3 linked regions of the Homo sapiens genome follow. Changing the gene in region 1 together with any one later gene gives a genetic interaction. Each region holds a gene or a part of one and is shown in the gene's direction. Other genes may lie near its edges. The genes, in order: GTPBP4, PITRM1 and ATG10.

The links.
Region 2: changes in GTPBP4 (region 1) and PITRM1 together harm fitness less than expected from each alone (positive genetic interaction), as found in Homo sapiens cells (one large-scale study listed by BioGRID).
Region 3: of GTPBP4 (region 1) and ATG10, changing one suppresses a phenotype caused by changing the other (phenotypic suppression), as found in Homo sapiens cells (one large-scale study listed by BioGRID).

What each region holds. Positions count from the first base shown.
Region 1 is NC_000010.11:998,351-1,002,007, forward strand, and holds part of GTPBP4 (GTP-binding protein 4), read left to right. Parts: intron 1-652; coding exon 653-745; intron 746-2,326; coding exon 2,327-2,518; intron 2,519-2,597; coding exon 2,598-2,663; intron 2,664-3,657. UniProt on the Homo sapiens protein: Involved in the biogenesis of the 60S ribosomal subunit. Acts as a TP53 repressor, preventing TP53 stabilization and cell cycle arrest.
Region 2 is NC_000010.11:3,137,174-3,139,608, reverse strand, and holds the end of PITRM1 (presequence protease, mitochondrial isoform 2 precursor), read left to right. Parts: intron 1-559; coding exon 560-705; intron 706-1,271; coding exon 1,272-1,374; intron 1,375-1,484; coding exon 1,485-1,578; 3' UTR 1,579-1,881; downstream 1,882-2,435. UniProt on the Homo sapiens protein: Metalloendopeptidase of the mitochondrial matrix that functions in peptide cleavage and degradation rather than in protein processing. Has an ATP-independent activity. Specifically cleaves peptides in the range of 5 to 65 residues.
Region 3 is NC_000005.10:82,055,499-82,059,155, forward strand, and holds part of ATG10 (ubiquitin-like-conjugating enzyme ATG10), read left to right. Parts: intron 1-2,996; coding exon 2,997-3,104; intron 3,105-3,657. UniProt on the Homo sapiens protein: E2-like enzyme involved in autophagy. Acts as an E2-like enzyme that catalyzes the conjugation of ATG12 to ATG5. ATG12 conjugation to ATG5 is required for autophagy. Likely serves as an ATG5-recognition molecule. Not involved in ATG12 conjugation to ATG3.

The sequences.
Region 1 (3,657 bases):
CAGCCTCCTGAAGTGCTGGGATTACAGGCATGAATCACTCCACCCTACCTTAAGATCACTTTTGCTTTGAAATAGATTTGTGAGTTTTATTTTGTCTACAGGTTGCTGTGACATGGTGACCAGCAAAGCTCTGCAGGGTCCTTGCTGATTTTTCAAATGCTTGTCAGCTCTGAACCTGCCCTGAGCTCTGAGCCAGTGCTCTGTGGCCGATTTGGTGGCCACTGCACTGGGTGGCTTTTTAAATTGCAGTTTAATTCAGCAAAATGAAAATTTCAACTCCTCAGTCACATGAGCCACATACTGAAAGTTCATTAGCAGTGCATGACTGGTGGCCCGGTTTGGACAGTGCAGACAGAACATGCCTGTCATCATAAAGAGCTCTGCGGGCATTGCAGGCGGTGGGGCAGGACTTGGGAGGGTGAGGGGAGGTGGTGGCTGTCCTCCAAATGCCAGCCCTCACGCTGTCCTAGTACCCCAGTCCTTGGCCTGGTGGTGCAAAGGGAGAGGTACCAGGCTCCTATTCGATGCAGTTTTATCGTGTGAGGTTTCTTCTATGGTTATTTCCTACCCAAAATCAGTCTTGTTAAAACACACAGATCCCACGTGTACACAGAGGAAATGAGGTGATTCTGAAAGTTCTCACTTGTTCCAGGTGACGAGAGCAGACGTGGATGTCCAGCCCTATGCGTTCACAACCAAGTCTCTGTTTGTTGGGCACATGGATTATAAGTATCTACGTTGGCAGGTGAGAGTCTTGTCTTTATTTTTATTCATTTATTTATTTTGAGTTGGAGTTTCACTCTTGTTGCCCAGGCTGGAGTGCAGTGGCATGATCTCAGTCCACTGCAACCTTCACCTCCCAGGTTCAAGTGATTCTCCTGCCTCAGCCTTTCGAGTAGCAGGGATTACAGGTGCACACCACCACGACCGGCCAATTTTTGTGTTTTTTTAGTAGAGAGGGGGTTTCACCATGTTGGCCAGGCTGGTCTTGAACTCCTGACTTCAGGTGATCTGCCCGCCTTGGCCTCCCAAAGTGCTAGGATTACAGGTGTGAGTCACACTGCACCTGGCAAGAGTCTTGTCTTTAAACAGAACAAATATCTTGGTTTATCAAGAACTTGAAATTTCTCCATCATCATAAAGAAAACTCATCTGAGCTCTTGGGATGCATAAGAACAGGTCGCATGTCTCTGATATAATTCAGGGGAGGCAGCCAGCTGCCAGTGTGGATTTCTGCATTTTCTTAACATAAAATGAAATTATCTTTGTGTCATTTCTAACTCTGTTATCAGAAATGGCATATATACAGTTTAAAAGCGTGAAGCAGGCTGGGCACAGTGATTCACGCCTGTAATCCCAACACTTTGGGAGGCCAAGGCAGGCAGCTAACCTGAGGTCAGAAGTTCGAGATTGGCCTGGCCAACATGGCGAAACCCCATCTCTACTAAAAATACAAAAATTAGCTGGACGTGGTGGTGGGTGCCTGTAATCCCAGCTACTTGGAAGGCTGAGGCTGGAGAATCGCTTGAACCCAGAAGACAGGGGTTGCAGTGAGCCGAGATTGTGCCATTGCACTCCAGCCTGGGCGACAGGAGCGAAACTCTGTCTCAAAAAAAATAAATAAATACAAAGCAAGAAGCAATGTTTCCACACTCTAATTTTGTAAATTGTGAAGAAAGTAATTCCTAAGACATGGGAGGGTTCTCAGTTATCCCAGTTTTTGTGTTTTATGATGTCGCTGGTAAAAAGAGGAGTCATTTCTCTCAACATCATGGCTAGCATTTCTTTGAGCTCTACAGGGTTCCTCCTCCCTTTTTTGATGTTTAAATAGTATGTACTTTTCTGTCACTGGTTTATTTTGTGGTATTCAGTTTGGGAGACCTACTTTTTTTTTTTTTTTTTTTTTTTTGAGATGGAGTCTCTGTCACCCAGGCTGGAGTGCAGTGTCGCTATCTTGGCTCACTGCAAGCTCCGCCTCCCTGGTTCACGCCATTCTCCTACCTCAGCCTCCCGAGTAGCTGGGACTACAGGTGCCCGCCACCACGCCCAGCTAATTTTTTGTACTTTTAGTAGAGATGGGGTTTTGCCGTGTGAGCCAGGATGGTCTCGATCTCCTGACCTCGTGATCCACCCGCCTCGGCCTCCCAGAGTGCTGGGATTACAGGTGTGAGCCACCGCACCCAGCCCTACTTTTTTTTTTTTTTAACTACAATTCTGCTGTAAGATTATTAGGTCTGGTTGGGTGTGTGTGAGTGACTTCTGGGATGTGCTGGACAAGAAGCTTGTGGGTGAGTGTGCTTTCAGTGACAAGGTCTGGCTGTGTTAGGTTGTAGACACTCCTGGGATCCTGGACCACCCTCTGGAGGATAGGAACACCATCGAGATGCAGGCCATCACTGCCCTGGCCCACCTCCGTGCTGCGGTCCTGTATGTGATGGATTTGTCTGAGCAGTGTGGGCATGGGCTGAGGGAGCAGCTAGAACTCTTCCAGAACATCAGACCTCTCTTCATCAACAAGGTGTGTGTGGTCACTCATGTTTTGCTTCATATCCTGCAGTACGAGAATAATGATTTCATTATTTTTCTTCCTTGCCTAGCCTCTCATAGTTGTAGCCAACAAATGTGATGTGAAGAGAATAGCTGAACTTTCTGAAGATGATCAGGTAAATCACGTTAATATTTTGAATATTTCTTACTTACCAATTCTGAATTCTCATCTCAGACAACCAAAGTTTAGATGAAGGAATTTTAGCAATACTAGTCCACAATTGTATTTTATAGTTGAGATAATATCCTCAGTGGTTTAGTGAAAAGACATAATAAAAACTTAGTTATTGGCAAACTAAAACGAAAACATAAGTTTCTGGATTCTTTGTTCTTGAGTGTGTGGAAGCATCTGTATTTGATGGGTTGGACTTTTGGAAAATGTGATTACTTAGGAGAGAACTGTTGGAGAAGGGTGCTCACAGGTGTTACTTCATAAAACAGGTTCTGTGATTAAATGAGTTTGGAGACTAATGATTGAGTGAAGGAGAAGGAGGATCTTGGAATTTGGGCTTTCTGGATCTGGATCTATGAGTGAGACGTGCCTGCTAGCTTTCTCCAAGAGGCAGGCAGTATTGTTGGACATAATTTTTCAAACTGATTGAATCCTACAACCTTTTTAATAGGCATCCTTCATGATAAATGCTTTTAGAAGCGTGCACTGGTGGAGTGGCTTTCAAATTGTGGTCCTGGCCCAGCAATGTCAGCATCACCTTCTTAATTTCTTCCTTAATTTCCTCATTGATCCATTGGTCATTCTGGGACATGTTTATAATTCTCATGGGTGGTTTTTTTTTTTTTTTTTACAGTTTTGAAAGTATCTCTTGGTATTGATTTCTAGTTTTATTCCACTGTGGTCTGAAAAGATACTTGGCAATTTTTAAAAATTGATGAGATTTGTTTTGTGGCCTAACATATGGTCTATCCTGGAGAATGTTTCATGGACTGAGGAGAGGAATGTGTTTTATGCAGCGGTTGGATGACATGTTCTGTAGATGTTTGGTCTACAGTGCACTTTTTTTTTTATTTTATTTTTGTTTTTTTTTTGAGATGGAGTCTCGCTCTGTCACTGAGGCTGGAGTGCAGTGGCACGGTCTCGGCTCAGTGCAGCCT
Region 2 (2,435 bases), 2.1 Mb from region 1:
GTTCTCCCCCTTGCTGTGCTGGAAGCCATGCTTCTAGACAAGGATGGGGAAGCAGCTCACAGCCGCCCCTCTGCAGCTCAGGGTGAAGGGAGGGCTGGGCTCTTTGCATTTACACGAAGGGAAGTCTGGATTGGCCCCCTCAGGCTGATTCCTGTACTACCCTGGGTGTGTCTTCAGGGAGATGAAAGGAAAACCTTTGTTTGCTTAATTTTTCCATGTAAGTCTTTGTAATTTCCCTGTAATCCTGACCTGCCCCTACCCTCCACTGACTTTCCTCTCCTGATGAGGTCACAGAGAAGTGTATTTAAATAATCTAGGGAGGACTTTGTGCAGACAGACCTTGTCTAAGAGGGAGAACATGTTGAAAGGCTTATGTGATCAGATTTAAATTTCCATTGAGAGTAATTGAGCGATTTGTCAGTGGGCTGTTTGGACTAAATCAGATATAAAATAGAGCTGTTAACCCATAGAAGATGTTGAACTGTTAAGTCGACAGAGGTTTGTCATAAACTTGTCCACTGGTAAAATGCTTGCCCGTTTATTTCTCTGGGTTTCCTAGGGACCCAAATACAATAGAGACGCTCCAGTCTTTTGGGAAGGCTGTCGACTGGGCTAAGTCTGGAAAATTCACACAGCAAGACATCGACGAAGCCAAACTTTCTGTCTTCTCAACCGTAGATGCTCCTGTCGCTCCTTCAGACAAAGGTATTTTGAGTATAACAGTGAGAATCTCAACCCACAGCCTCACAGATGACGTTGCTGTTTTCCAAGTTCCCGGCATGCATGGGCAGGAGCACTAGCTTCTGGTGCCTCCATCCTTGCTTGTGATACGATTTCCACGTCTGACACCCTAAACACGCTTCCTGACATCCGGGCGAGAAGAGTGCATCCTGTCATTTGTTTTACTGACCTGAGACCCAGTGGGGCCAACCCATGGCAGTGTCCGGGCTCTTTAGGGTGGAAGGAGGACGTGGGCACGGCCCGGGCATGGCCACGTTACTCTCTGGAGCCGCTTTTGCTCACAGCATCATCAGCCTCACGCGGCGCTGACTGCATCCCTGCTGCAGAAGCAGGCGTGGGTAGGGGTCAGCGTGGCACGTGGGAGCTGGAGGTCGGGGTGTGATCTCTGGGTTGTTAGACACATCCCTGTGGTTGAAACATGCACGTGAAATGACAGTGAGATGCCTGTGTCCCCTCCGGGACATGAGTGCACAGCCCACAACGCGAGCTCCCGGGCAGCGGCTCCATCGTGCCTGTGGATTGTCTTCTAGGAATGGACCACTTCTTGTACGGCCTCTCGGATGAGATGAAGCAGGCCCACAGAGAGCAGCTCTTTGCTGTCAGCCACGACAAGCTCCTGGCCGTGAGCGATAGGTGAGTGGGGAGCGGGGGAGACAGCGTCTGGGACTGGAAGCCCTCGTGCTGACTCTAACAGCGCTCACGCAGAAGCCAGTCCTTGCTGACCACGCCTGCCTTCCTCTCAGATACCTCGGCACTGGGAAGAGCACACACGGCCTGGCCATCCTCGGACCCGAGAACCCGAAAATTGCCAAGGACCCATCCTGGATCATCCAATGAGCAGCCGTGGCGCTCGACTGCACAGGAGCCCGAGACAATACACCTCCGAGCTGAATATGAAAAGTCAGAAATGCTACTGCTTTTTCCAAGAATATTATGTCATTGAGTGTCGCCAAAGCCCTTGACTGGCGAGTCAAAAACTCAGATCTATCTTAAGAGTGACCAGGAAGAGGTTCATTGAAATAATCATGCATGAAGCGCCAAAGATGCACCATGTAGAATTTTCACTTTGTACTGGCAGGCTCGTTTTACCTCATTCTAGAATATTTAAGAATCTAAAAATAAAGGGCAACTCTGACTTAACCTCTGCTTGAGTCATTATTTTAAGCAGCATTTAGGGCCTTTATTTAAAAACAGAAGTAAAATGAAAAGGTGCACAAGGGTGTCCCACGTCTGCCTGCGCTGATTCAGGAAACTCCATCACACCGAGGCCCTGGGGGAGTGTCCACCAGACGGGAGTTCACCGCGGCGGCTGCATGGAAACCGTCCTGAGAAGCAAGTGGGTTGGGGTGAGTAAGCGCTTGCTTCATCGTTACAGAGCCAGAAAGGAAAGCCTCCGCGCTAGCTCTTTCTTGGCTGTCGGACTCTGATTTCCCAAACAGAGTTTGTTTTTGGCCTCTCCTCTCCCTCCACCCAGCTCTCTGCCCCCATTTCTGAGGCGCAGCTGTTCTCTCTTGCAGACTAGAGCTAAGAGGCAGAAACGCTGTCCCTACAGGAGGGGGGCCCACCAGGGCAGCAGGGCTGTCATCCCAGCAGCCGTGTCTACTCTGGCAGGAGTCTTCCGGAGAGTTCCAACCTAGGTCCCAGCGAGGACTGTGGCTTGGCCTGGAGGAGAAGCTGGCTATCAGATTTTTGAA
Region 3 (3,657 bases), on another chromosome or scaffold:
TATTAGAATTTTACTAAATTTTATGTTCCCTTAAGAGGAGGTTATGTGACCAGGGCTCAGGTATTGAAAAATACAAAATAGAGCAGTTACCCTCATTTAATGAGCTATATTTAGTACACACAGTGCAGCTCCGTGTTCTCTGAATATCCTGAGAGTTTTGGTTTTTATCTCTATGGCTAGATCATTTTGAAATTGCAGACTTTGGGTAATTTTTCTCTCAAACACATGCTATTATAGTTTTACCGTATAGTCATGCTGCATAATGACATTTCGGTCAAGAACAGACCACATGTACAGTGTTCCCATGAGATTATAATACTGTATTTTTGCTGTACATTTTCTTTGTTTAGATATGCTTAGATACACAAATACTTACAAATTTTACACAAATTTTGTTACAATTGCCTGCAATTAATACAGTAACATGCTGTACAGGTTTGCAGCCTAGGAGCAAGCAACTATGTCTATAGCCTACGTATGTAGGAGGCCATACCATTTGGGTTTGTGTAAGCACAGTCTATGATGTTTGTACAATGACAGAATAGCCCAATGACGTGTTTCTCAGAAGGTATTCCTGCCGTTAAGTGATGCATGACTGTATATGGTAAATCTTTTATATAATCAACTATTGATTATCTATCTCAAGATTGACAATACAATAGAAATCTTCTATTTTTAAACTAATAAACACAAATTTATGTTACTTAATAGCAAAATTATTTTGGTTGCAAGTGACAGAAAACCCAACCCATTGGGTGAAGCAAAGAAGGGACTTTTTGGGGCCATGTAATTGAAAAATCTGAGATAGAACTAGTTTCAGATATGGTTGGTGTAAATAATGTAGTCAGAATGTGGTTTCTCTGTATCTCATGGTCTTGCTTTCCTCTGAGTTGCAGAGCCAACTTCGTTTAATTACATGATGGCTGCCAGGTTTTTTTTTTTTTTTTTTTTGTGGTCTGTCTGGCTCAAACCTAGTGGAGAAGAGAACAGCCACCTTTCCCAACCCCCCAAAACCAAATCCTGAATTTCATCCCATTGGCTGTGATGTAGATCATTTGTCCTCCAGAGTCTCTGGGGCCGGCAGTACTGATGGGCAGGATCAGAGATCTGTGTCTATCCCTGGAGCTGTAATCATTTGTCCTCCAGAGTCTCTGGGGCCGGCAGTACTGATGGGCAGGATCAGAGATCTGTGTCTATCCCTGGAGCTGTAATTAGTGTAACAGTAGCCAATGCTCCTCTAAGGAACCATTCCCTTCTCAATCAGGAGAATTGAGGAGCAATTGTTCCTTAGAGGAGCAATGACTACTGCTCCAAAAGAAGGAAGAATGGATGTTTGATGTGAAACAGTGGCAATGACAACAGTCATTACATATATCTTTCTCAGTTTAAGCCAATGTTAAATTTACATTTTTCTAAATACGAAGGTTTCAATGGTAGAAGACCATTACAGGATCTGCTTTGTGGTCAGATAGTGTAGAGCTGGAATTTAAAACAGTAATTCCATCTACAAAATGGATATCCTTAATGAAATAATTAAAAATGACAGTATTGGATATCTGATGGCCTACTTTCCAGGCAGGAATGATATTAAAAATATTTAGCAACCTGTGACAGAGGCATCAACCAATCAGAATGAGTTGGATCTAACCAATCAACAACTAACCAGTGCAGCCCCCTGAGTGAGAGCTGGCTGTTTGTCAGCACAACTTACTGGGAGGCATTCTTAAGGTGCTGTCAAGTGTCTTAAAAAATAGAGTTACTGTATTAGTTTCCTAGGAATGTTATAACAAGGAACCACAAACTGGGTGACTTAAAGTAACAGAAATTTATTCTCTCACAGTTCTGGAGGTTAGAAGTCTGAAATCAAGATGTTGGCAGGGTCCTGCTCCCACCAGAGGCTTTAGGGAAGGACCATTCCTTACTGCTTCTAGCTTCCAGTGGCTGATGGCAATCTTTAGCTCCTAGATGCACCGCTCCAGTCTTCATCTTCACATGGCTTTCTTCCCTGTTTGTGTCACTGCATCCAAATTTCCCTCTTCTTATAGGAAGATTAACCCCTTAGTCCTTATTATTTTAATTCTATTAAAATGTAAATGTTGGTATGACAATGTGGTGGGGAATTAATATTTATTGGCATGTATGTTTGTTCTTGGGGAGGTATTATATTCTTACACATGACTTTATTGAATTCAAAAAAGTGTTACCTTAAAAAAATGGAACTGGCCACAATTAGATGAACATCATTCATTAGTGTATTTAAGAGCAAGTACAAGAAACAGGAGACAAATACTGGTAAAGGGCTCAGAAACCATATTTTGTAAGGAGTATTTGCAAATGGTGGTCATTTCTTCAGCGCTTGGAAGAACAGCTGTGTGGAAAAGGGATTAGACTTCAGAGGGCAGAACTAAGTAAGTTAAAGGATGTGAAATACAGGACAAAACTTTCTTAATGTACAATGCACTAAAATGGAAATGACCGCTGTGTAAGGGAGTAACAAGGGCCAGTTCCTGGAGGTACTCAGGCAGTTGCTGAGATGCATAAGTACCTTTCTGGGACATTTTCATAGAGATCTTGCCTTGAGAAAGAAATTGAAATGGAAGCTTTCTTGCAGCTTCAAGATCTATTTCAAGTCCTAAAATTGTTCTCTATGTGTATGCCATGAAAATCAATATTAATTATGTGACAAGCTATTTCTATAAGCTTAAGTTTTGTTCTGTGATCTTGGTGCTATGGACTAGTCAGGAAAAAAGGGAAAGGTTTAATCTAGGAGGGTGGAAACATCATTAATAAATAAGAGAGGTAGGAGAATAAAACTTGCATTTATTGAGTACTTACTACGTACAGGGTGTTGGACTAGTCTCTTTATCCATATAGTCTCATTTAGTACATTTAGTTTTTCACTGATCAGTTTGGAACTTATGGGAAGTGGTTCTTAAAATGATGAATTCTTAAAATAATTGGCATTTTCTTATATATTTTTTGGTGATGAAACACAGGACTGTTCTGATGGCTACATGTGCAAAATACACTTTCAAATTAAGAATGGGTCTGTGATGTCACATCTAGGAGCATCTACCCATGGACAGACATGTCTTCCCATGGAGGTGAGTAGTTTAATGCATCATGTTCTTTTCAGTCTCCGTAAAGTATACATTTAAAAATGTATACTTTAATGACTCCATCGCATTCCATCCTATGGAAGCACCACAATTATATGGCACTCATATTGAAATAAAATACTTTAATTCTGTTAAGTAAATATTTTAAAAACTTCAAACTTCTTCCCACTGGAGAGAGATCCAATTGCCATTGGATCCTGGGCCTGTTGTAGGGGGAGAAGGAGGTATTTTCCTTTGTAATACTGAAAGCAAGAATTGTGGTAAAGTTATATAAGATCCACTCTGACTCCAGATTGTAGTGAGCCGTCATACTTTTGGTTTCTCTTGGACCTGAATACCACAGATGCCTTCTGTTGTCTATTGATTTTTTTTTCCAAGTAAAATTCCCTGAATATAGCCCTAGCCCCAGGCTGCTTAATACTTGATTGGAGACCTCTTTGCCTGCTCTGCCTTTAGCCCCTTTTCCCTTGAAAATATGCTGGATCTGGGTCTTATTCCTTAGGGGACTTTAACCTTGACTTGAAAATCTTGCTGAACC